4 linked regions of the Homo sapiens genome follow. The protein of the gene in region 2 interacts with the protein of the main gene of each other region in a pairwise test. Each region holds a gene or a part of one and is shown on either strand. Other genes may lie near its edges. The genes, in order: BEND7, EAF1, ARID4B and TNFAIP8.

Region 1 (7,038 bases), on a different chromosome or scaffold from region 2:
AGAGTCCTGAAAATAAACAACCACATTTCAATGTGGCAGCTGTTAAGTTTCGGAGGAGGATCTGCAGGGTGACTTGAGCACAATAAAGCCACACACAAAAATAAGTAAATATTAGGCATCACATGGTAAGTGCCAGAAAAGAGTAATGTTATTACTTAGTGCCCAAGTGATCGGAAGAATAGATAACTCCTAGGCTGGGCACGGTGGCTCACGCCTGTAATCCCAGCACTTTGGGAGGCTGAGGCAGGTGGATCACGAGGTCAGGAGATCGAGACCATCCTGGCTAACATGGTGAAACCCCGTCTCTACTAAAAAAAATACAAAAAAATTAGCCGGGTGTGGTGGCGGGCACCTGTAGTCCCAGCTACTCGGGAGGCTGAGGCAGGAGAATGGCGTGAACCCGGGAGGTGGAGCTTGCAGTGAGCCGAGATGGCGCCACTGCACTCCAGCCTGGGCAACAGAGCGAGACTCCGTCTCAAAAAAAAGAAAGAAAAAAAAAAAGAAAAGATAACTCCTAAATCTGGGAGAAGGAGAGAGAATGGGGTAATAAAAACAGAAATACAGTGTTTTCCAGTTTGAAAAAGCGTTTTACCATACAGGATTTCGCATGTGCGTCAGGAGGGCCAACGTTATTCTTCTATTACAGAAGATGAGGAAAACCCCTCAAGAGTGTTATCCAAGGTGTTAGAACTGGAGCCTGAGATTCAAAGCAAGGTTTTCTGACTCTAAATCCAACTTCTCTCTGCTACGCTATGTAAACTGAGGCGGCTTACAGGCCAAGGTAATATTTGAATTGAGCTTTAAAAACCGATAGGAGAGACAGGATTTTACTAGAAGGAGTTTGGAAATGGGGTAAGGAATGGTAGGAGGCTAGGATGGAGAAGGAGCCGCAGTGAAATGGCAGAGATGAGAATGGGAAGGTGCTTTAGGAGGGAATGATGTGATCAGTTTGACACAGCACATGTTTTCAGTGAGGGTGAAGAGCAAGAGAAGGCTGGAAGGGCGGTTTAGAAACAGACAGCGAACTGAAAGAGAGAGGAGAGCGGGGCCTCACTCCTCCAAGGCAGCATGGTACAGTGGAAAGATCGTGGCCAGGCCATGTCCAAATTCCAGATCCAGGCTCTTGTCTCCTAGTTCTATGACCTTACGTACATTAACAATTCTAAAGGCCCATTTTTCTCATATAAAAGTAGAAATGACAATACCTTCTCAGAGCTGGTCTCAGTGTTAAATGAGATAAAGTTCGGAAGTGCCCAGCACACACCGGAGGCAGTAAACAAGCCCTAGCTCCTTTCTTCCCAGCAGGAGGGGCTTTCCCAGGCCATAGCTCCTGCCCACCCCATTCCTTCTCCCTGTGGTGCCTCCTCTGCACCTGGAAGTCCTGGTTTAGGAAGCCGGTTGGCTCAAGGGAAGGCGGTTACATGAAAGCTGTGGACAGGGAGATGGGTCGGGTCAGACCGTGCATACTAGACACTCAGTGAAGGGCTTTGCCTTGATTCTAGGCCCATGACAAGGGAGCTGAAGTCTCTAAGCAGGAGAGAGGGTGAGAAGTTACGTACTGAGATCAGCCCACGTGGGCAGATTGGAGCAAGGAGCTGTGGCAGCTCTGACAAGGTGAAGAACTCAGAAGTGGATGTCAGGAGACCCCACTGGAAAGTGTGGTCAGCTACTAATGACCATGTAGCCTTGGGCAAATCACTTTCATCCCTGAGTTGAGGTTCCCATTTGTAAAACATGAGGCCGACCCAACAGCAACCTCACAGTGTAGCTGCAATAGAAACTAAATGAGAGATGGAGTGCCCGGATGGCCTAACTACAAATGCCTCCCAGACTTTAGGCAACAAGTCATACGTGAGAACGACCAAGTTCTGCATCCACAGCTACCGAAACATATGTTTATGTGCACATAAATTGAAAGAAGCCATCGGTATTTAAGTTCCCTCAAGAGGCTCTCCAAACTTTGACTTTGCTTGCAATTATTTTTGAAGCCATTTTTCGGTCCTAGAGTATAATCGGACAAATCAGGTGCTGTATGAAGCCTTGGGAACTGTCTAGACCAGGAGTTTTAAAACAGTGACTGGGGGCGCCCTAACATTCTGCAGAGGCCCACAGAGGAATGTGAAATGCACGTAAGGCTCTCTGGGTCTCCTCGACCTTTTTTCAAGCAGCTCTGCTCCCCTTTGATCTGCTGGACATACTGGGGGTTCCGCTTGGGAGCACGTTTGAACAAAGCCTGCCATGCGGTTAAGGGCTTGCTTTGGAGACAGGCAGACCCTGGCTTGCATCCTGGCTCTGGCACTGAGTAACTCTGTGAACTCCTCAAATTCTTCATCCATAAAGAGGGAAAAACAACACGTTTCTTGGGACAATTAATGGGATAACATTTACAAAGTCCTTTACATAGTGCTGGCACACAGCAAGCTCTGGGTAAATAACACTATTACTGGCCACGTACCTAACCCCAAGAGACACTCCTGGTCATCTGTCCCATTCATTCCACCACCAAAAAAGGAGAGGACTTACAAGAAGGAGCACAGGGACACAAGGACACAGTGGGGCCAGGGTGCTGAAGGTGGAGCTTTTGTGGGGAGGAACAGAGGGGAAGCACTTGCTTCCACATACTGGGATTTTGGGGTTCCACTTTTCCCCCTTGGCCCTTCATTTCCTCTGAGGTTGCAACTCCTGCCCCAGGTATGGTGACACACTAGACCCTTCTTCCTCTTGGAAGTGGGGCTCAGCTCCCAAGCCTTTTGAAACCAACCAAGAACCAGGGTGGGACCCAGGCCACCTGACTCCAGGTGAAGACCTCCTCCATTTTACAGACGGACCTGCCGAGTCCTCCAGGGAGGAGAACGATGTCGTGGCTGGGAGATAACTCTCTAACTTGTAAAAGTGCAGAGGAATTGTTCGAGTGTGTCCTCTTTGGGGAGATTCTGGGGACTCTAGTGGGTGCAGCTGTCATCAAGAAAGCCACTGAAAAGAGACTTCAGAGTTTCAGAGATGTCGACCCTGCTCAGCTGGCATGGCTGCCACACTGTGTGCTTCATCTATGGGAAGCTGAATAACTGAACTGAATATTAAAAAGAATAACTAGAACAGGGCTTGGCATGGATGTAAATGGAGCGCAATGAATTTGTTGAATGAATAAATGAATGAGACTGAACACCTGACAGATAAACATGTTTCCAATGTACATACTATGATAAATCTAACCCAAAATCCAATGTGTGAAAAGAGACTTCATTTTATATTTGCATTACTGCTATGAATAATAAATTAATTGTCTCATTAAAATCCTTCTAAAAGTGCCCTGCTAGCAGCTAAGGCCTCCTCCATGAGCCTTGGCTTTGCCTGGCTCCACAGGGCAGAGGGGAAAGATCTTTTGAGAGGAGGCCTGGGTTTACTCCGGCCTCTGCTATTCGTGAGGTCAGGTAACTGAGCTTCGGTTCCCATCATTATAGGAATCATTATATCTGCCCTGACTACCCCACAGGTATATGGTAAAAATCCCGAGAAGACAGATGTGAAAGCACTTTCTAAACCATAAGTGCAACACTCATGGTCGAGCTATAATGATGCTTATTGGCGGCTCCCTCACCCTTCCCACCTGGAATCTTCTCCAGGGAGGAGAAATACAGGAGCGAATCTTTCCTGTAGTTCAACATCTCTGCTTTGCAGAGCCCTCCCCTCTACCCCTTCCAACTCTGCATTTGCTGTTGCCCTGATCATTCACATTTGTCATTTAATTACCGTTCACAGACAGGCGGTTAAGTGGAGTGTTCAAAGCTCAGACAGACCTGCACTGGAACCCTACCTGTGGCACTTCCTACTTGAGAGACCTTGGGCAGGTCACCTCGACATCTCTAGGCTCATCTACAAAATGGGGATGACGGTAACTCATACAGACATGCTGCAAAGAGCAAATCAGGTCTTTCATGTAAAGTGCTCAGTGTGCTGCCTTGCACACAGTTAAGTGCTCAAACAACTGTAGCTCTTACGATTGCTGAATACTGCTCCGTTTCCTGAATTTGTCCTGTCTCCTCCCCAGCTGGATCTGAATCCCTGAGAACAAGGTCCCTGTCCTATCCATTTCTGTGACTATCTCTGACCCCACTCCCATTCCAGAAAAGTGCTGAGTTCAGAGTATCTTCTATAAAGACACTGGCTGAACTGATTTAAGAGAACTGTTTCCTTTCAAACAGTGCTTAAATCTTCACTGTAGTCCCATCACAGCCAGCTTGAGAAAGTCAATGTCCACAGGGTAAAGTAACGTCTTCTGACCCTATTATCCAATTAAAAATATGTGAGTAATTCCTAAAGCACGAGGCCAAGCCATTTACACTACTGAGCTACCCTACCATGTGAGATACACTACGTTCGTTAACAGCCTAAACATGTTCCAGAGAGGTAGACTTGATGTGGGAACCTCTGCCACATTCTAGAAGACTCTTTTTCACCTAGAACATAAACTTTGATCTTATAGATGCAGATACTATTAAAGGGAACACATATGTTTGAATGTAGAAAATCCTATAGACCATCCCTGGGACAGTGTGTCAGTACTTTGTTATAGGGGAAAGAGTTCTAGTATTTTGGTACCAAACCCCCTTGGATGTCATAAGCTTCCCATATAATTCTACATCTTTATGGACAGGCTTTAGCAATTTATAAAATAAACATAATTGAAATCTTTATGTTTTGAAAAGTGTAACTATAAAACTATAAACTATAACACTGTCAACAAAAAATTCCTACTCTCAGATGCCATCAGTAACTATTCTCAATTGCTCCAGAAATCATGTTGCTGTGACAATTTCTGTTATTTTTTCTTAACTGACCTAGAGATCACAAAATAAAAATGTTATTTGGGAACCAACTACATGATGACCCAAGAATGAGCAAAAGATTGAAAATAACCCACAGCACACTCCCAGGCTGTTCAATCTTTTGTCTCTTGATGTTGAAGGCCTTCTGGAGCAACCACTTTGAAAGCGTATCTATCTCAAGCCTGGTCCTTCATTGGAATTCTTGCATCTTCCTCAACTTGGACTAGGAAGAAGAAAAGCAACAACGTCTATCATCTCTGGGAGTTTCCAGCTTACTGAATCCTGGGCACTAGCATCCTGTTGCTCTTCAGCTTCCCCTCTCTTATCCTTACAATTCACTTCCTTCGTAGTGACCTTACCACTTTTCTAGTAGTACACAACAGAAAGTGCGGGAAAGCCTGCCTTGCTGGAGAACTAAATCAAGGACATGATGTTCCCTTTGTATGGTGAACGTAAATTTTCTACTAAAGGGTAAATTCGTTATTTCGAATGGCTATATAGAGTGGTACTTTGATAATACAAAATTCCAGCTGACCAACCAGGCACGGTGGCTCACGCCTGTAATCCCAGCACTTTGGGAGGCTGAGGCAGGTGGATCACCTGAGGTCAGGAGTTTGAGACCAGCCTGGCCAACATGGTAAAACTCTGTCTCTACTAAAAATACAAAAAATTAGCCAAGCGTGGTGGCAGGTGCTTGTAATCCCAGCTACTCAGGAGGCTGAGGCAGGAGAATCGCCTGAACCTGGGAGGCAGGGGTTGCAGTGAGCCGAGATCATGCCATTGCACTCCAGCCTGGATAAAAAGAGTGAACCTCCGTCTCAAAAAAAAAAAAAAAAAAAAAAGAATTCCAACTGACCAAGTTTAGGGGACTGGAAAGACTAGAATCCAAGAATATTCTCTTTCTGGGCCACAGCATTTCACTTGATTATTAACCTTTTGGCTCCTAGCTCTCTTAACAGTAAACAGGTACTGGGAGCAGTGCTGGCCCCAGTGATATTCTTTCCCTCAGCAGAAAGATCTATGTGCTATCAATGATCGCTCATGTAAGAAATGCTGACATTTCCCTCCTATTTTTCCTCTTAAAGTATATATTAATATTTGACTTCTTCCCAATGCATCCCGACCCACCCTTTCTATCCCTCAAAGCAAAACCAGAGAGATCCTGGCGAGAGCTTCGTTTGAAGGCTGACCCACACCGGGTCTGAGCAGCAGTCCTGCTACCTGAAGTCCCCCTTGATGGGGTAATTGTGGCTTTGCTTGTAATCGTTCTCGCTCTGACCTCTCTCATGTTCTGCTTCCTTGCTGTGCAGTGCTGTGCCCTCACCCTGCTACCTGGGATTGCAGAGGTCCAAGATGGACAAGGTTGAGGCCCAACGCCACCATCTACTCTCCACCCTGACCTTATGGGTACTTCACTCTTAGAGGCAAAATCTTACGTGGTTTCATTTTTGGCTGATTGTGTGCAAATAAAAAACTGCACATCCAAAGTCTTTCCTGTACAGTATTTGCACCAACACTGCACATGGAAAAGGTGGCAATGTTTGTGGCTACCTACCCACCCATCATGCAGCTACACTTGCTGGAAAGTCTCAGAAATGCTGTTTTAGCTCTGCTCATCCCTGACGTGAGCTGGGAACAAGGATGGTAAGAGGAAAGCATGCTGTTCCCCCTGTCCCAAAATGCTGGTGTGAAAGGAGCACAAAGTCAGGAAAATGAGGAGCTGCTTGATGATAACTAGCACTATCAAGAGCTGGTTAGGCAGACAGTCACACTTTTATTTTCCTTATGCTTTTTGACTGTAGATTTAATTTAATTTTGTCATGGCAGGATTAGCAACTGGGCCACAGAGGTGAAGGGACATTATAAGACAGCACATTAATCCTCTATCCCACCCAAGGCAGAAGCAAAACCAAACAAATAGCAGCTTCCTGGAAATTGAATTTCTGTTATCCAGATGTCAAAGATGTAATACCCCAATTACACAAACTATTGCCAGTGAAGCATGCCAACGAATATGCAATGTAAATGGGGTGAGCGCAGAGCCACAAAACTGCACAGTCAGCATCTGGCTCTGTGAGTGAGTGATAATTAGCACTGTGTGTAGACACTAATAAACATTTATGTCTGAAATTACAACTTTTAGCAATGTTAATAAGGGATATATTGGCAATCTGTAAAATAAAAGGTCTTGAAAAGAATGTCATACATTAAG
Region 2 (5,554 bases):
AACCACCATGCCTGGCCTCGGTGTGTTTTAATGCAGTTGATACTAAAGTAAAACAGGAAAACAAGAACAAAAATTTATTTGTTTTGAAGGTGAACAGAGGGCTAATTTTCTATGCTTTTCTCTTTTTGGAACCCTGATGAATGTTCTCTCTTGGTACACCTTCCTTTAAGGAAGTTGGAAGGTCTAGAGGTAACAGTGGGGAAGTTAACCTAGTTAATCCAACTATTGTGGACCAGGCAGAGATAATCTCAACCTCAGCACTATGGGCAGTTTGGGCAAGATAAGTCTTCTTTGTGGGAGGTTGTCCTGCACATTGTAGGATGTTTAAGAGCATCCCTGACGTCTACCCACTAGATGCCAGTACCAGTCTCTTCCCACCTCCCCAGCCCCATGACAACCAAAAATATCTCAAGACATTGCCATTATATGCCCCATCTTTAACATAGAGACTGAAGTATATGAAGAAAATCTGGCATTCTAGGTAGTTAGAAAAGGGGTGACCTCAGGATCAGACCCCCCTGAAAGGGTTTCATGGAACCCCGAGTCCTCAGAATAGACTTTGAGGAGAACTGGCCTAGAGATTAGCAATTTGGAAATAAAGAAAATCACTTTTGCTACAAGTGGTATCAACTGGGGTTCTGTTATATGTATTCCTATTGTATTAGATTGAAATGTTAAGTAATTATATTCTTCTAAATTCTGCCTAGTAAACAGGAATCTGGGGTTTTGTAAAGCACGTTAGTTCAGATTTGAAATTTAAGATAACGTGACTATCCTGGACAGAGGTGTGCCAGAGCAGATACTGCATTAGCATATTACTGGTGTTAACAGTATTCACCTTTCTTAATGGGAAGCCTACCGGATATTTTCTTAAGTTGCCTTTATAAAGCAACTTAATGTGATCAGTTCTTCCGAATGGTGATCAGTTATTTTAAATATTTTCTTTTTTTTTTTTTTTCTTTTTTCTTTTTTTCCTTGAGACAGTCTCACTCTATCGCCCAGGCTGGAGTGCAGTGGTGCAATCTTGGCTTACTGCAACCTCCACCTCTTGGGTTCAAGCGATTCTCCTGCTTCAGCCTCCCAAGTACCTGGGATTACAAGCATGTCCCACTACACGTGGCTGATTTTTATATTTTTAGTAGAGATGGGGTTTCGCCACGTTGGCCAGGCTGGTCTCCAACTGCTGGCCTCAAATGATCTCCCTGCCTTGGCCTCCCAAAGTGTTGGGATTACAGGCGTGAGCCACTGCGCCCAGACATATTTTAAATATTTTCTTGCTATTTATTAAACCATTTAAAAGTTATCCAGCTTACTTCTCCTTTGCTCTACCCTAATATGCAGTATTGTTGTGCTTTGTAGATAACCAAAAGCACCATTTTGTTTCAGTGAGCCAATTTGATTTTCTTCCCTAAGTTGAATTAACAAGGTTTTACTGTAGTGTGATAGCCAAGGCAATTAACAAAAAATTATGAGGAAGTCATTTTTAAATTCTGTACTTTTGTTTGATTCTATGATTTTACTTTATTTTTTTTTTTAAATAGGAAATGACTTGCAGTTGAGTGAGTCTGGCAGTGACAGTGATGACTAGTGCTGGATCTTTCGAAACCTACTTTTTGGTGCACAAACATGCCGCAAGACTGAGCTACTTTGGCGTGGAGTCCATTGCAAGAGGAAAATGTTATGGATCAGTGACTGTAGTAGGAGTTTGAGGCTCTGGAACTCTCACATATTCAAGTCTTTAACTTAGTGGTGATGGGTGATTTTCTCGTGTCATTTTTGAACAATCTCATCTTTCAAAGTTTAAGTAGACCTGTAGAAGAGCTAACAGAATTATATTTCTATTTAGTTAAAATTGTTAATGAAAAACAGATAAATGTGCCCTGGTCTAAGTTACTCAAAGGCCATATCTTCACCAGGCCAGAGATTCAGTTTTAAACCTCAGCAGCCATCAGTTTGGCCAAGTGGTTGGTACCAGTGGAATGAAGTCTTTGATGGGTAGGAGAGAGAGGGAAAACCTCAAACTACATCATAGAAGTATGTTAAAACCACTTTAAATTGTTGACACAAAGTGGTAAGGAAGTTTTGTCTGACTCAGCCTGACAAGCCTGGATAGAAATGGACCTCAGAATACAGAATGGAGTCCTTGAGTGTCAGTTGGTGAGGACCATGGAGTCCTGCCAGCTCAACCTGTCATTTACAGACTAAGAAAGGGAAGTACACACCTGGCTTGTGGCCAGTCTCCTGCCCCCTCTCTGGGCTTTCCTCACTGTTCTCTCCCTTGAATCTCATTTGTAGGAATCAAGAGATTCCTATACATGGGACTTTTAGATGTACATTGGCACTTGGATTAGATTCCAAAAGACAAAAGTGTTGGGTGCTTCTAGCTTGAATTCAGTCCCTAAATACATGAGGCTGGGTGAGCAGATGAAACCGGTAGCCACTGTGCTGATGCATGTGACTCCATTCAGTTGGGGATTTTGGTTCCATGTGGATCCATACTAAGTATTCTTCAGTCAGTGGATTTTAGCAAGGGGAGGTAGGAGTGGAAGAGAGGTGTGAAGAAACCTCTCCGAACAAATGAACCAGCAGTAAGTTTCTAAAAATCAGAATCTAGATAGAAGTTCTGCAATATGAAATGAGCACATTCTTTGATAAGGCGTATCTATTCATGCTTTTGTACCACTGTTTTGTACCTGACTCCCTGACCGATTTGTATTTTTTATATACAACTAGAAGGAAGTCACAAGATTGCCTTCTACAGTGTGCCATTTCCAAATGGATCTGTTGTTGGAGGAAACTGGTTGCTAGTCAATGTTCTATATTTAATGAATGTGTGATAAATCATCCTGTAATCAGTATGGAGTAACCTGTTTTTGTAGTTTGGATGAATATGTCCTGAGAAATTTCCATCCACTTTGGTTCAGCGGACATCAAGGTAGTAATAATAATTTTTCCTCCACAGGTCCCTCCACTCATATGGCCTCTCCCTCCCCAGCTAGTGGAGGGGAAGCAGTCTGGACTTAGAAAGGAAATAGGTGGTCTGTCATAGGGGCTTTCATTAGAGTTAAACTTCATAGAGTCAACTGTTTCATCATCATAGTGAGCCCAGAGAGCCACTGCCCAGCAGCATGCTCACACCACCTACCCTAGTGTAGGTAATAGGTCTACGCTAGGACCCCGTGCTGGGCTCTCAGCCCATCATGAGATTTTGGTGGATTTAATGGCAGGTAGGAACTTATTTATAGTGGATTGATAATTGCTTTATAATTCCTTGGTAATGACAGCTCAGGGAAGGTTTCACAAGGTCATGATCAGGAGACTTGAATTGTTACTGGATGTAGGAATTGTTTCACTGCTCTTAACTTGCTCAAACTGGGGCAGGTTCCAGGAACTTGAACTAAAAATATCTATTTAAGCCTCTCTCTCTTTCTCTCCTCCCCAACTTTTTTCTGAAAGCCTTGATTTCTGTAGACAGAACTATGGTTTTTGGCATGTTGGGTCAAGACGTGTTTCTATAGGAAATGCTTGCACGTGGCACTGGCTTGGTGAGTCAAGCTTCCTGAGCTTCAGACCGTTTGTCCTGTCATCTGTCCTGCCCAACACTGTATGGTTTTTCTCTAGCACGGCTTCAATTTTGTTCTCTGCACAAAGCCTTTGGTGGTTCTGCCCTCTGCCCTCCAGCTTTACCCACCAGAGTAAGCAATCTTTTCTTTTTAGAAATCAAGAATTTGGCTTCACAGATGGCTTCTCACAGATGCCCTCCTGCCAGCCAAACCGGACTTGTTCTTCCTGCCTCTGTGCCTTCTCTCATTCTCCTTCTCTCCCTCCATACCCCACTTTTGAGGTTCTGTGGGTACCATCTTTGTGGACTCTTGTCTTTTTTTTCAACCCACATGGAGTGCCCTGTGTGTACATACTGACCTTTTTTTTTTTTTTTTTTTTTTGCTTGAACTCTGGTCGGTATGAGCTCCTTAAAAGCAGGTACTGGGCTGGCTGTGGTGACTCATGCCTGTAATCCCAGCACTTTGGGAGGCTGAGGTGGGAGGATTGCTTGAGTCCAGGAGTTTGAGACCAGCCTGGGCAACATGGCGAGACCCTGTTTCTACAAAAAGAAAAAGGGAAAAAAAAAGCAGGGACTGTCATTCTCATCTCCTCCCTGGGGTATCCACAGGAATGGACATTCAAATGGTTGTAGCCTGGTGGGGTAGAAGGCAGAGAAGACTACCCAGCCAGTGAAGTGCAGAGGATAGACATAGGAAAACATTCCAGGCATTTGGAGACAGCTGAAAGTATCCATGCTGACTTTCATGATTTAGAAGTCTTTAACTGAATTATTAAAATTGCCTTTTTTTTGTGCTGTACAATGTCTACTGTACTGTGGGTCATTTAGATGAGATGAAAAACTTAATTAAATCTGAAGTGTCAGAGGCGCTTAGTAAGCCTTAGTAAAGTTGTGATTGAAGAAACTTAATACAAATGAACTAGAGGTTTGTAATCATGCCACTCACTAACGATTTTATTTCTGTAGCAGAATCATTTTTTCTATGTAAGGTGTTAATGTGTGTGTATGTGCTTTGGTTGTAGGAAAACTTGAAAATTCCAAAATCCTTATTTTCCTATTTGAGAGGCTGGTTCAGCAGGGTGTGTGTGTGTGTGTGTGTGTGTGTGTATGAATGGTATATTTATTACATTATTTTGAAAGAGAATTAGTGTGTTATGTGGATAATGTTATATACAGCCAAAGTGGATGTTTCTATTTGGCAAGGAAGGTAGGATTTCTGAAACTCAGGCCTTAACCAATAGGTTGGAAGACAAGACCAATTGAAGAGTTAGGAAATGTGAGTTTTTGTTACTTCTGTTATTCCAGTCTTGGTTTCATTGTCTCATTCTTTATTTTTAAAATCTTGTGCCTAAAAGTTTTTTTGCTTAATTATGAAGTAGACATGCATGTTTACATTTATGTAAAATATTTGCTGTGTAAAGTATTTTTTGTTTATTCTCTTAAAAGATCACTATATTTAAATAAAAGTGAAGGTCAGCAACACATTTCTTGTCTTGGTGGGTTTCATTTTCTTTTAGAAATCAATGAGCAATATAGGGTTCTTTTAAGAACCTTCTGTGCTTAAGCCTAAATAGCTAACTAAATGGATTCCTTTTTAATTTGGTGTTTATAATCATTAGGAAGTATACCTCAGCTTTTAAAAGGTGTGACATTCAAAACTGAAGGACGAACTTCAGTTTTTAAAAGGTATGAAGTTCAAAACTGAATTACATCTGAGGCCATTTTACTTGGTCTGAGAAGGAGGGCTTAGTTTGGGTCTGAGAACCATGCAACAGTTAAACTGAATCCCTAGACATATCCTATTGTCATTTTAGTTTACCAGATTCCTTCTGCCTGGAATGCTATGCCACACACACCTCTGACTCCCAGCTGACATTTGGCTAGAAATCCTGACCTCCTGCTTCCATTCTCCACTTCTGCTTCAGCAGTGCTCACATTTACCTGTGGTCTTGGCTCCTCTGCTAGACTGTATAAACTTCTAGGTAGGCAGTG
Region 3 (4,816 bases), on a different chromosome or scaffold from region 2:
TAAAAGAATGCCTAGGCTGGGTGTGTTGGCTCCCGCCTGTAATCCCAGCACATTGGGAGGCCAAGGTGGGTGGATCACATGAGGTCAGGAGTTTGAGACCAGCCTGACCAGTACGGTGAAACCCCGTCTCTGCTAAAAATACAAAAATTAGCCAGGAGTGCTGGCAGATGTCTATAATCCCAGCTACTCGGAAGGCTGAAGCTGGAGAATTGCTTGAACCCGGGAGATAGAGGTTGCAGTGAGCTGGAGATTGCGCCACTGCACTCTAGCCTGGGTGACAGAGCAAGACTCCGTGTCCAAAAAAAAAAAAAAAAAAAAGAATGCCTAATACATTCCTTATCTGATTAATGGACTTTTAATTTTCATAGGTAGAATCTTCCTTTTTTTGTGTATCAATTAATCCCCTGTGATAATACGTGCTGGATATGTATGTTCCAGTCAGTCATCACATACAGAAATGAACTAAAATTACTAAATCTTTTAGAAACAAAAATCAAGGATTCACAAACTATGGCATTTTATTTCAGAGCCTTTGCTTACATTTGTACAATATATTACATAATTCTTCATTGTTTGCAGATCCTAATATATACTTTATAGCTTTTATTCTATAAGCTTTTTTCTTCAACATTTTGCTGTCAACAAATCTTTACAGTCCTGTACAAATTTGAATAACTTGAAACCATTTTCAACAAAATTAGTTACTGTAAGCACACACTACAAGACTGAAAATGCTTTTCTTAGAAAAGTTGAATGTAAAGGATTCTGACACGTTAGCATCTACAACAAAACGCATTGAAATTCCCACGTCGTATTGCCAGGAAACAAAGAAAACATGCCAGCCCCATCCAAAAAAAGTACACAGAACTACAATTAAAACAGTAAAACAGTCTGTACAATAAAGTACTGTGTATTAACAGTGCCAGATATTAAATAGCTTGAATGAACACATCCACAATATACAAATGTCTTACAAAGGTGAAGAATTAAATACAAGTGCCAAACAGAACAGAGATTGGAATCATACAACATAAAGTCAATACAAGTGAAAACAATTTTGCATTCATTTTGGATTTTATACAAGGCATTTAATTTTATAGGCCTACCACCCCCATTAGCTATTTATATTTAAAATAACCACCATCCTTTTGAGACAGTTCCTATCAACAATCTTGAACCATACTAATACATTACTTGTTCCTGAAGTCCTTTTGTTGTAGCTCATAATAAAATAAGCAATACAAATGAATTATCTGTATTTAAGGGAAAAGAAACATTTACAAGAAAACACAAAAATATAACTGTTATAATTCATTATGAATAAATATACACTTTGAACTGGCTAAGTACAATCTTTATACATTGTTTAAGATTTAATACAGTTTATTAGCCATTTTCTTTTTTCACACAATGTATATCAAAATTAAAAAAAAATACTGATTTATAGAAAAATGGCAAAGTACAGTAGTTCCATTCCAATTTGAAGGGCCATGAAAAGCCACTGCAAGACCTTTTAGCCTAATTCAAACCTGTAAACATGTTCAGTCTTTTTTAAAGAGAATCTTTAATATTTGGTTACCAGGATTGATGTCTAATATCCTGTTAACTGCAGGTTTTGAATTTATTACATGTGCTTGACTTATACAATTAAAGCCACCCTAAGGTGACTTGCTTTAAAAAACAATTACCTTGTACAAATGAAAATAGGTTCATATTTTTTCATAAATAAATGGAAAAATATCAAATGTTCCAGCTTTAACAAAATACAAGGGAATACATATACAGTAAGTTATCTTAACATGTTCTGACCCACCCCTTAACTATGCTTACTGTATTGTCTCTACAGGCAGTGAAAAGCCTCCATTTGCCACAGTGGAAGGCCTTCCAGTTACCAGACACACAATTCCCAGACAAGTTGGAAACAATTATTGCTTGAGGAAAAGCAGTTCATTGTACTTTTTCTTCATAAAAAAGTGCACTTAAGTGCCAAGTCAGCTTGTCAAGAAACAATTTTTAAATATAAAATAGTGCTTGTCTGATATTTTTTTGTGCCACTGTGCAGTATAAAAAAAAAGTGGCCCTCAACAGCCATTAAGTGCAAAGTGCTTTAGCAAGTCCTGCTGTCACCTGCACTCAACTGACATTCCATTTTGTGATGCGCTGGACATTGACGGTTCAGCTAAAGTTAACATAACAGCAGCTGTTATGGAACTGGATGAAGGTGAAGAGGAGGATGAGGATGTAGCAGCACCTAAGGAAAAGGGAGACCAAACCAAGAGCTTAATAAAAATTTATGTCTAACAATAGACAGAAAATACTAGTCCTCTGAACTAAAATTCCGCTATATTGTCCAAAATCATTTAGCTTACAACAACAGTGGTCAATTCTCACAGTTCTACGATGTGAAGAAAGGAAAAGCTAGTGTAGCTCAAGAAGCTAGACAGTGCCCAACTACAGAAGTAATGAAAAGGACAGACCAGGGAAGGCTCCTGCGTGGGTCAAAGAGGGAAAGAACTGTGCCTAGTCTACAAGACACAGAAATAAAATACAGAATACACTTTTTGTAACAGTGAAACAAGTATCAAAACAGGAAAAATCTGCAATCCATCCAAAAATCATTTGTCCCCTCCTAATCCCTCCATCTTTCTGTACTTAGGAGTTTTCTTGTACATGTAAATGGTGACAAGAGTGGGAGGCTTAATTGCTTCTTCAAGTTGGATCAAAACAGTGCATAGCTCAACTGTTGCATTCTCCGCCACTAGGTTTACAAAGCAAATAACACATTAGTTATTTTCATCAGAGGAAGTCTCTCACTGTTTCCTTTTTTCGTTTTTTTTTGTTTGTTTGTTTTTTGAGACAAAGTCTCGCTCTGTCTGTCGCCCAGGCTGGAGTGCAGTGGCTCGATCTTGGCTCACTAAAAGTTCTGCCTCCTGAGTTCACGCCATTCTCCTGCCTCAGCCCCCCCAGTAGCTGGGACTATAAGCGCCCGCCACCACGCCCGGCTAATTTTTTTGTATTTTTAGTAGAGATGGGGTTTCACCATGTTAGCCAGGATGGTCTCGATCTCCTGACCTCATGATCCGCCCATCTCAGCCTCCCAAAATGCCGGGATTACAGGTGTGAGCCACCGCGCCCAGCCTGTTTGTTTTTTTGAGACGGAGTCTCACTCTGTCGCCCAGGCTGGAGTGCAGTGGTGCGATCTCGGCTCACTGCAAGCTCCGCCTTCCAGGTTCACGCCATTCTCCTGCCTCAGCCTCCTTTTTTTTTTTTTTCCTTTGAGATGGGGGTCTTGCTCTGTTGCCCAGGCTGGACTGCAGCAGTGCAATCTCAGCTCACTGCAACCTTTGCCTCCTGGGTTCAAGCAATTTTCCTGTCTCAGCCTCCTGAGTATCTGGGATTACAGGCATGCGCCACCATGTCCGGCTAATGTTTCTATTTTTAGTAGAGATGGGGTTTCGTCATGTTGGCCAGTCTGGTCTCGAACTCCTGACCTCAGGTGATCTGCCTGCCTTGGCTTCCCTAAGTGCTGGAATTACAGGCGTGAGCAATTGCGCCCGGCCTCTCTGTTATAAATTAGTGTTCATAAATTAATATTTTTAAATACATGCACAGATTTAAAAAATTCATTCAGTACAGGGGTAATAGGATAGAAAAGCAAATCTCACTCTCATCCAGGAACCTCCTAATCACCCAAATTCCCTTCCCCATTGCTACCAGTTGATTCATATTCATTACAACTCTAGAAAAAAGGCTGGCAAAAAAACTACCCCAGGGGCAAATCTGGCTTACTTGTCTTTGGAAAGAAAAATTGTACTGGAACACAGCCATGCCTATTTGTTTACATATTGCCTATGGGAGTTTTCACACTTACCATGGCAGAGATAAGTAGTTTCTACAGAGACCACATGGCCCACAAAGCCTAACATATTTATTGTCTCTTTACAGAAAATGTTTGCAACCCCTGTTCTACAGGAATTTTATCTCTAGAATCTAGAGATATGATATGCAAATTTAAAATATATAGATATAGCAACACCTTTAAAAACATAAGTGGAGGCCGGGCACGGTGGCTCACACCTGTAATCCCAGCACTTTGGGAGGACTAGGTGGGCGGATCACAAGGTCAGGAGATCGAGACCATCCTGGCTAACACAATGAAACTCAGTCTCTACTAAAAATACAAAAAATTAGCCAGATGTGGTGGTGGGCGCCTGTAGTCCCAGCTACTAGAGAGGCTGAGGCAGGAGAATGGCGTGAACCCGGGAGGCGGAGCTTGCAGTGAGCCAAGATTGCACCACTACACTCCAGCCTGGATGACAGAGAGATACTCTGTCTCAAAAATTAATAATAATATTACAAAAATTAGCTGGGCATGGCGGCACGCACCTGTAGTCCTAGCTACCCGGGAGGCTGAGGCAGGAGAATCGCTTGAACCGGAAGGCAGAGGTTGCAGTGAGCCAAGATCGCGCCACTGCACTCCAGCCTGGTGACTGACCGAGACTCCGTCTCAAAAAAAAAAAAAAAAAAAAAAAACCACACACACACAAGTGGAAGCATAGTTCAGTGTCTGACTTTTTTTTAAACAATATATTTTAAGAGATTGTTCCATATCAGTACATACAGATCCTTTTCTTTTCAAAGTTGAGTAATATTCTACTATATTACAACTCATAACTTATATATTTCACTACACTGTTCCTGCATTGGTTTTAGTTTTAATTTTTTTGGTAAGAATGATACCTTATTTGGGCCAGTCGCAGTGGCTCATGCCTGTAATCCCAGCACTTTGGGAGACTGAAGCAGGCGGATCACGAAG
Region 4 (6,950 bases), on a different chromosome or scaffold from region 2:
TTCTTTGTGAAATAGCAGGCCTGGTGAGGCATGAGAGTAAGAACTGGGTGAGGTGGTGGTGGGAAATGGCTACTATGGGCAATGGAGGAGCGAGCCAGACTCACTCACCACTCAATCCTCACTCTTTTCCAAGTCCCCACAAAGTGACACCTCGCCCACCCCTTAACAATGGCTTTCTCAATTTCTGGTATCAATGCTTCAACATCCAGAGCAAAGGAGCCCTGGATGCCTTGATGCTTAGCACTAGAAAGATTCTCAGAGATCTCAACTGCCACTCACTTTAACTACTTCATAATTAAGCAATTTACTCAGGAAACAACTAAATGCCAAATACACGGCTATCAGCCTATCTCCTCAGGAAGCCCCATCCACTGGAAACTGTTGATATCCTCTTTTTAATGGTAGTCACCTTTTTAAAAAAGTGAGTTTCTTCTTTCATTTCCCCTTCTTTCCTATTTATTCTATGTCTGAATAATTTAAACTCATTCAGTTTTTAATAAAGCAAGGCCTGGATTATTTTTCTCTGTTTAATACCCAAGCACAATCACTTATTCATTGTTAAGCAGGAAAAATTAAATCAATTATTTAGGAGATGGCTATAGGCTGGGGACAAATATCCAGCACCCCTGGCACAGAGTCAAGTATGTTTTAAGCTCTGATGGCTTAACAATATCCCCAGTCATTTGCTTCTACATTCACGCATATGCAAAAATATGCTGGCCTCCAAGGACTTAGATTCAACCCCAAAGTATACTAGTCTCTCACTACAGTTGAGAAAAATGACTTAAAAGTATCTCCTCTTACAGCGTATCAGGCATGAAGCATCCAAAGGCAGTTTTCTTGCAATACAGACATTCTTAAGAACTCATGGTGATCTCACACTAAATGGGATACATAAGTTCACCAGGATGAAAAAAAAAAAAAAAGCTACGTATAAGAGGAAAAGGACTAGTAACGATAGAGAAGATAACTGAGTTATTTACACAACATAGCTCGCTTCATCGACATCTGAGTGGTGGTAGCTAACCAGAAGGTTCTAGATTACAGCCAATGAACCAGCCTTGGAGAAAACACACCCAAAACACACAGACACCTATCCTTCATTTCCTGGCAGAAGCTATATGATTCTATCTGATTAATAAAGTGTTCAATCTCCCTCAAGAGTTATTCAGTATCCCACCCTAATTGCTATCAATTTAAAATTCTACTACCTCAGATTATTTTAAAAGAAACATTCTGGGCTTTCTTTAAAAAGCAGAGCGCCATATCATTTGTGGCCGATCTGCAGAATGTAAATGATGACAAGTGGAGGGAAGGTGAGGAACAAGCAGAAGGGGCCCCATTAACCTCTTCATAGGCCAGTTTGCAGGCTGCTTCCAAACTTAAAACCAGAGAGCTGGGCCCTCGAGGAGGGAAGACTGTGGATGTTGCTATGGGAATGTATAATACACACTTTGGGATACTGTTTTTCCACTTTCTCTCCCACTCTCTCTTTCTCAAAAGACAGGGAAAACACACCTGAGAGAAAACGCCAGCTTAAGTGCTACTTGTAATTCACACAGAAGTTCACCCTTGAGTTCTCTCAGCCTGGTTCCTATTTGCCTTCAACTACCTTTGACTTTGAATAAACTGCTGGTATAAAGACATAGAAAAGAAAAGCATCTATCAGCACACAGCTCCATCAGAACACAGGACACGGCAAGAAAGCATTACTCCCCCCATACTCCACATCAAACTCAAAAACAATGCTCCTGGCTGTCATTTTTCATTCATGCCAGCCCCGTATTTCTATTAAACAAACCTCCTTTTTATTGACTATTTCCCTCACACAGCATAATAAGGTAAACGTGAGCCCACAAAGACTACATGGTGAAACACAAAGCTTTCCTCTGGGAGGGGAATCAGTAAAAGGCAGAAGAGGACAAGTTTCAAGGGCTCTTCCTAACTGGTGTCTACCAAATGGAGAAATGATGGGGCTGCTCCTCTGCCAGAACTGCTGTGATTGACTTGAAATTAACCAGCTTTCCAAGAGACTACATGAAAAGAAAGAGTATTTCACAATCTTGAATAGTCTCCTCTCTTACTCTCTAATTTTCCCCAACCACCCTTACTCCCACCCCCCACTTACAAGAGAACTTTTGTATACATAAAGTTTCAAGGAACAAAGCATACAAACACTCACACACAAATAAACTCCCCAAACTAACACCAGCGTATAATTGTGTTTTGGTTGGAGCTTTTCCAGCCCTGTCACCTGTTCTCTGTTAGGAGTAAATGAAACCCTTTGCTTTTGCGAAGTTAGAAACAGACAAACTCTTCTCAGTTTCAAGCTGCACAAGGACCCCCTCATATCTTTCAGCCCCCTCAAACCCCCAACGAAATGAACTCACTGCTGAAAACCCAGCAATGAAAAAAAATTAATCTATTTCTCAAATACAGATTTTCGCTTCCCCTCACTCAGCTTCCCCTTTTAGCCGGAAACATATAGCGTTTCTAATTTCTCAAACCCCTTTTCAAGGGACCCTCCACTCAGGGCTCTTCCAGGGATCCCGCTTTCAGTCTTTCTGATGCAGGCAGGCAGCCCTTTTCCAAGCACATTTTGCATTCTTGGAGTCCAAGTGGGGCTCTTTCGTTTCCAGAGAAAGCTAAAAAGCAGACTTAGTGGGCTGGCTGAACTAGGTCCGACTTTTCCTCCCCTCCCCTCTGAACGGCTGCGGGGGGAGAAGGGAGCCCAAGATGAGACCCGGGCTCCGCTTATCCAGCTCCGACTTGGCTTCGAAGGCGCAGGGCAAGCGGACAAAGTGCCCACCGCTCACTTTAAAACTCCCATCCTCTTCTACCACTGCCTTCCTCCAAATTCCTCCGCAGAACTTGGCCGGCCCCCAGGAGAAACCAGAATCCTACCTTCCTTGGATTCTTCTGCTTCGGAGTGCATAATGTCAGGATAACCAGCTGCAGGGGCGATTACCGCTCACATGTACTCGGACGAGCCGCAAGTTCGCTCTGCAGCGAAATCCGCACACGACGGAAAATAAAAGGAAGAAAGCCACTAAAATCAAAACCTCCCCGGGGCGGGAGAGCGGGTTCTGGTGCAGGGATTTTCAGGGGGAAAGTTCTGCAAGAGTGACGAATCGCGTGTCAGCTGGGCGGCGGGAGTCCGCCCCCGGAGCCGCGCGCTCGGGCCGGCAGCCGGGCGGAGGCGACCTGGCGGGGCTGGCTCGGCCCGGGCGCACGCAGGTGGGGCACAGGCCCAGACGGCAGCCGACTCTCCCGAGACACAGGGCCGAGAAGAACCGTCGGCAAACGCACCAGACGGGCGGAAAAAAAGGTATAAAAAGAAAAAAAAAGTCTCATCTCAGAGCACACTGTAGTTTTACATAAATAGCAAATGCATATAGGGTAGAACCAATGCCTCTGTATTTTTGGATTACATTTTTTGATGCCCATTTGACTTTGTCTTGGAGTCTTGCAACCCAAAAATTACGGATTTTAAAGCGGCTTTGGTATGTTATTTTTGTAGGAAAGTCGCATGGATATCGTCCATGGGGTTGCAAGGACCAGCTTAAGAGAGCACAATTTCACAAGTCCCAGAGCGGGGCCTTTTGAAGAAAGTGGAGCGGCCTCCACCCTTACCTTTGCACAGCAAAAGCAGACGGGGCTGCTTACTCATTCAGTATAGCCCCGGGCGAGCACTGGTACTCCAAGCACAGCCCGGGCACTCATTGCTGCAGTTACTCCAAAGGGCCTTCCTCAGGGGGAGAGCACGGTTCCCTCCCGGCTACCAGCAAAAACTGGGGATGAATTCCTTCAAAATGCCAAAGGGGAGGTTTTCAGGATTTGAAATGCTGATAGAATAAAGAAGCCGGACAGCCTTCACAACAGATCTCAATTCTGCCCCCGGGTCTGGCCCACAGGCCCCTACAAATTGGCTGAGAGGAAGTCCCCTTAGCTCTGTGGAGCCTTGGTTTTCCCTTCTGCAAAGCGGGGACAAGAGCTGCCACTGATAGGCCTGTCTTACGGAGGTATTTTGTAGAACACTTGTTTTATCGCCAGTCTGAGGCAAAAAGTCCTCAAATAACATATCTGAAAGATCCGCTTGGAAATTATGAGAAAAAAATATACTCTTTTGACAAATTTATTTTCCAGTTCGTTTCTTTTTCTTCGTTTCCGATTTTATATAGGCAAAAACCAATAGAAACACTATGGCAAATTTAGTGAAAAGAACGTACAAAAGACATGGATTTAAGGAGTCTGAACTTAAATCCAGTTCTGCCATCTATCATTTGTATGACCTTATGCAAATTAACCTCTCTGAGCCTCCAGTTCCTCATTTGTAAAATGAAGATAAAAATAGTATTATTTACTTCACAGATTTATGTCTGTATTAAATAAGGTAATATAAGCACAAAGGGATTTGAAAACCATAAGGACTACATAGATTATTACCATTGCACCATTAAAAGTAAATTTTTATAAAACATACTCTTGGGTTTTATTTCAGTATTGACTTTGAACAGAAAAGAGTGCTTATGCTATTCACAAGCAGTGAAGGCTATTATAAATATTAATGTAAGAGGTCTAGATATTAAATCACATCCTACTGCTGAGAGATTCTAACCTGCCTAAGATTCTAACATGTTATCTCAATTTCACTGAAAGAGCAGGATGAAGGGAGGAAGATATAGCCAGCCAGAGAAGGGAGAAGAGGAGAAACATCTGGAAAATATCAGTGTTGCAGAGCCTCCCGGAAACTGACCTCGCCACCGAAAGGGTAACAGACTGCACCCTTCCGAAAGTCACAGTTAACTTCATGGTCCCCTCTGCCACACATCCTGAGTCAGGAGCTGCTGATATGTATACCTTGCACTCAGTAATCTCAGACTTATGGGGAGATACACTGAGATGAGGATGATTCTGAACCCAAAGAAATGCTCCCTCACCAGTCACAAGTGGCTTTTCCTGTCCTGCCCAAGTCAACATTCTGCCCCTCTCTCCCTATACCATCTATCCTTGCCCTTCCTCACTGCAACCCAGATGTCCACAGATAGTCCACAAGAGATCTTAAGGGATCTCACCAGGGCCGTGTGCTACACAAGAGAGCTTCCACTGATCTATAATTGGGGTAAAGCAACACCTTTTCAAGGTGATGATTATGCAAATCCAGACAACCCAAATTTCAGGCCCAATCTGCCTACAGCAGAATTACTTTCACTCTCTTCTTTTAGAAAGTACCCTTACAAGAAATATTTATTAAATGTCATTTTGCAAGTCCAACTGGGGACAAACCACATAAGATATGTTAAAATACATGTCCTTTAATGTGCTACTTGTTTTACAACTGCTGAATGAATAGTTCAAGCGCTCCGTCAGCCTTATAATTCATTTTAGATTCATGTTAGCTTCGTTGATCTTTGAACATTCACCATCGGCCTCAGGAAGCCTGGAGAGAAACTTCTTTTGTATTTAAATGCAAGCAAGCAGTCACCTTGGGGAAGAATGCTCTGTTTTAGCTCAAGAGCAATGAATGCTCAGCTTATTTTAAAAGGCTTTATGTGAATAAGTACATTCCTCAGTCTCCCGTATAACCTCAAAGCCATCTGCTCTGGGCAGGCTGCATTGCCCCATACCCCTACCCTGCAACATGGTGACAAAGGGCAGCTGATTCTCTAGGGCTCCCCTTGGCCTTCTGCTGCTCTCAGATATGTACTAGGTCATTTTGATTTTGCTGTGCTTTTATTCAAAAGGGGATAATTTACTTCTTAGCCCCAGTGAATAATGGTCCAGTACATCATAATGATTTGTTATCTCCTGTAGGTGGGACTTGTTGATTCTTGTATGTTTAAGAAACACCCCAAACATCCTTCACATGGCAACATGTATGGAAGTCATACCAACAAACTATTACCGCCCGCCTGATACAAAATTGCAACTAAGTTAGCAACACTTCTCATTTAATAACAAACTGTACTTAAATTTAAATACTATGTTGAACTCCTGCAAGTGTCTAATAATGGAACTCCCACCTTTTGTGTCAAGATGGAAGAATGAAAATGGTAGCTAAGATTCTGAAGGTTTATTCATTCATTGAGGTATAATCAAATATTTGTGTGTGTCATATGTAAATTGACCCTACTCACCTGGGGCTTATTGACATAATTTTGTTAATTTGACCACAGACCTAAAGAACTCAACTTTCCAAGTCACCTTGGTTCTAAGGAAGGTTTATTAACACCAACTCTCGACTGAACTTTATCACAGGGCAGCAGAAAAATCTCTTTCCAAATTATGCCTTAAATAAAGCTGTTCAAAGAGTTTTTTTTAAAGGCCTGACTTTTAGGCCTTTTGCTCACAGCTCCCCAGATGTCTGTTAAGAAAAGGGGAGATCAGTGAGTTTTCAGACTCACACAAATTAGAAGGCCAGCCGGCAGAACTGGGAAGACAAGGTACCTTTTAATTAGGAGGTATCAAATATTCCACTCACATTCAAGAATGTTATATGTTCTCTGCAGTGAAAAATATGAAGCACCTCTGTAAACTAGTTATGGACCTATAGCCTCTAGTTCGCAAAAACTTCAGGTCACCAAAAATGGTCATTTTTTTTTCTAACCTGCTGAGGCTGAATCTGCTTCCTTCAATTTCACTTTGAGACCTTCTTCAACTTCTCTTGTATCATTTTTGTCTACACCCTTGAAAGCCTTCGAAGGCTTCCGTGATCTATATAAAAAGTTGGCTGTCACTCCTGTTTCCCCATATGCGGGAGAGATCTGTGTCTTGGTCTCACCTGGTTAGGCCTGTAGGCTTTGAGTTCTTCCTATTATCCTCAGACACATTTACATTTACCCTTCCATAACACAAGTAAGCCTAAGTGGGTATCTCTCCATGGCCTCTCCCTGGCCCAGGTTATTTGGCTCTCTTAGCCTTAAGAAAATGGTATTTATGGCCGGGCACAG

The links.
Region 1: the proteins of EAF1 (region 2) and BEND7 interact in binary tests that used the Homo sapiens proteins (3 or more experiments, as listed by UniProt).
Region 3: the proteins of EAF1 (region 2) and ARID4B interact in binary tests that used the Homo sapiens proteins (3 or more experiments, as listed by UniProt).
Region 4: the proteins of EAF1 (region 2) and TNFAIP8 interact in binary tests that used the Homo sapiens proteins (3 or more experiments, as listed by UniProt).

Annotation. Positions count from the first base shown.
Region 1 is NC_000010.11:13,518,999-13,526,036, forward strand, and holds part of BEND7 (BEN domain-containing protein 7), read right to left. Parts: intron 1-7,038.
Region 2 is NC_000003.12:15,437,568-15,443,121, forward strand, and holds the end of EAF1 (ELL-associated factor 1), read left to right. Parts: intron 1-1,541; coding exon 1,542-1,588; 3' UTR 1,589-5,046; downstream 5,047-5,554. UniProt on the Homo sapiens protein: Acts as a transcriptional transactivator of ELL and ELL2 elongation activities.
Region 3 is NC_000001.11:235,166,402-235,171,217, forward strand, and holds the end of ARID4B (AT-rich interactive domain-containing protein 4B), read right to left. Parts: intron 2,252-4,816; coding exon 2,124-2,251; 3' UTR 501-2,123; downstream 1-500. UniProt on the Homo sapiens protein: Acts as a transcriptional repressor. May function in the assembly and/or enzymatic activity of the Sin3A corepressor complex or in mediating interactions between the complex and other regulatory complexes.
Region 4 is NC_000005.10:119,352,076-119,359,025, reverse strand, and holds the start of TNFAIP8 (tumor necrosis factor alpha-induced protein 8), read right to left. Parts: upstream 3,008-6,950; 5' UTR 2,936-3,007; coding exon 2,905-2,935; intron 1-2,904. UniProt on the Homo sapiens protein: Acts as a negative mediator of apoptosis and may play a role in tumor progression.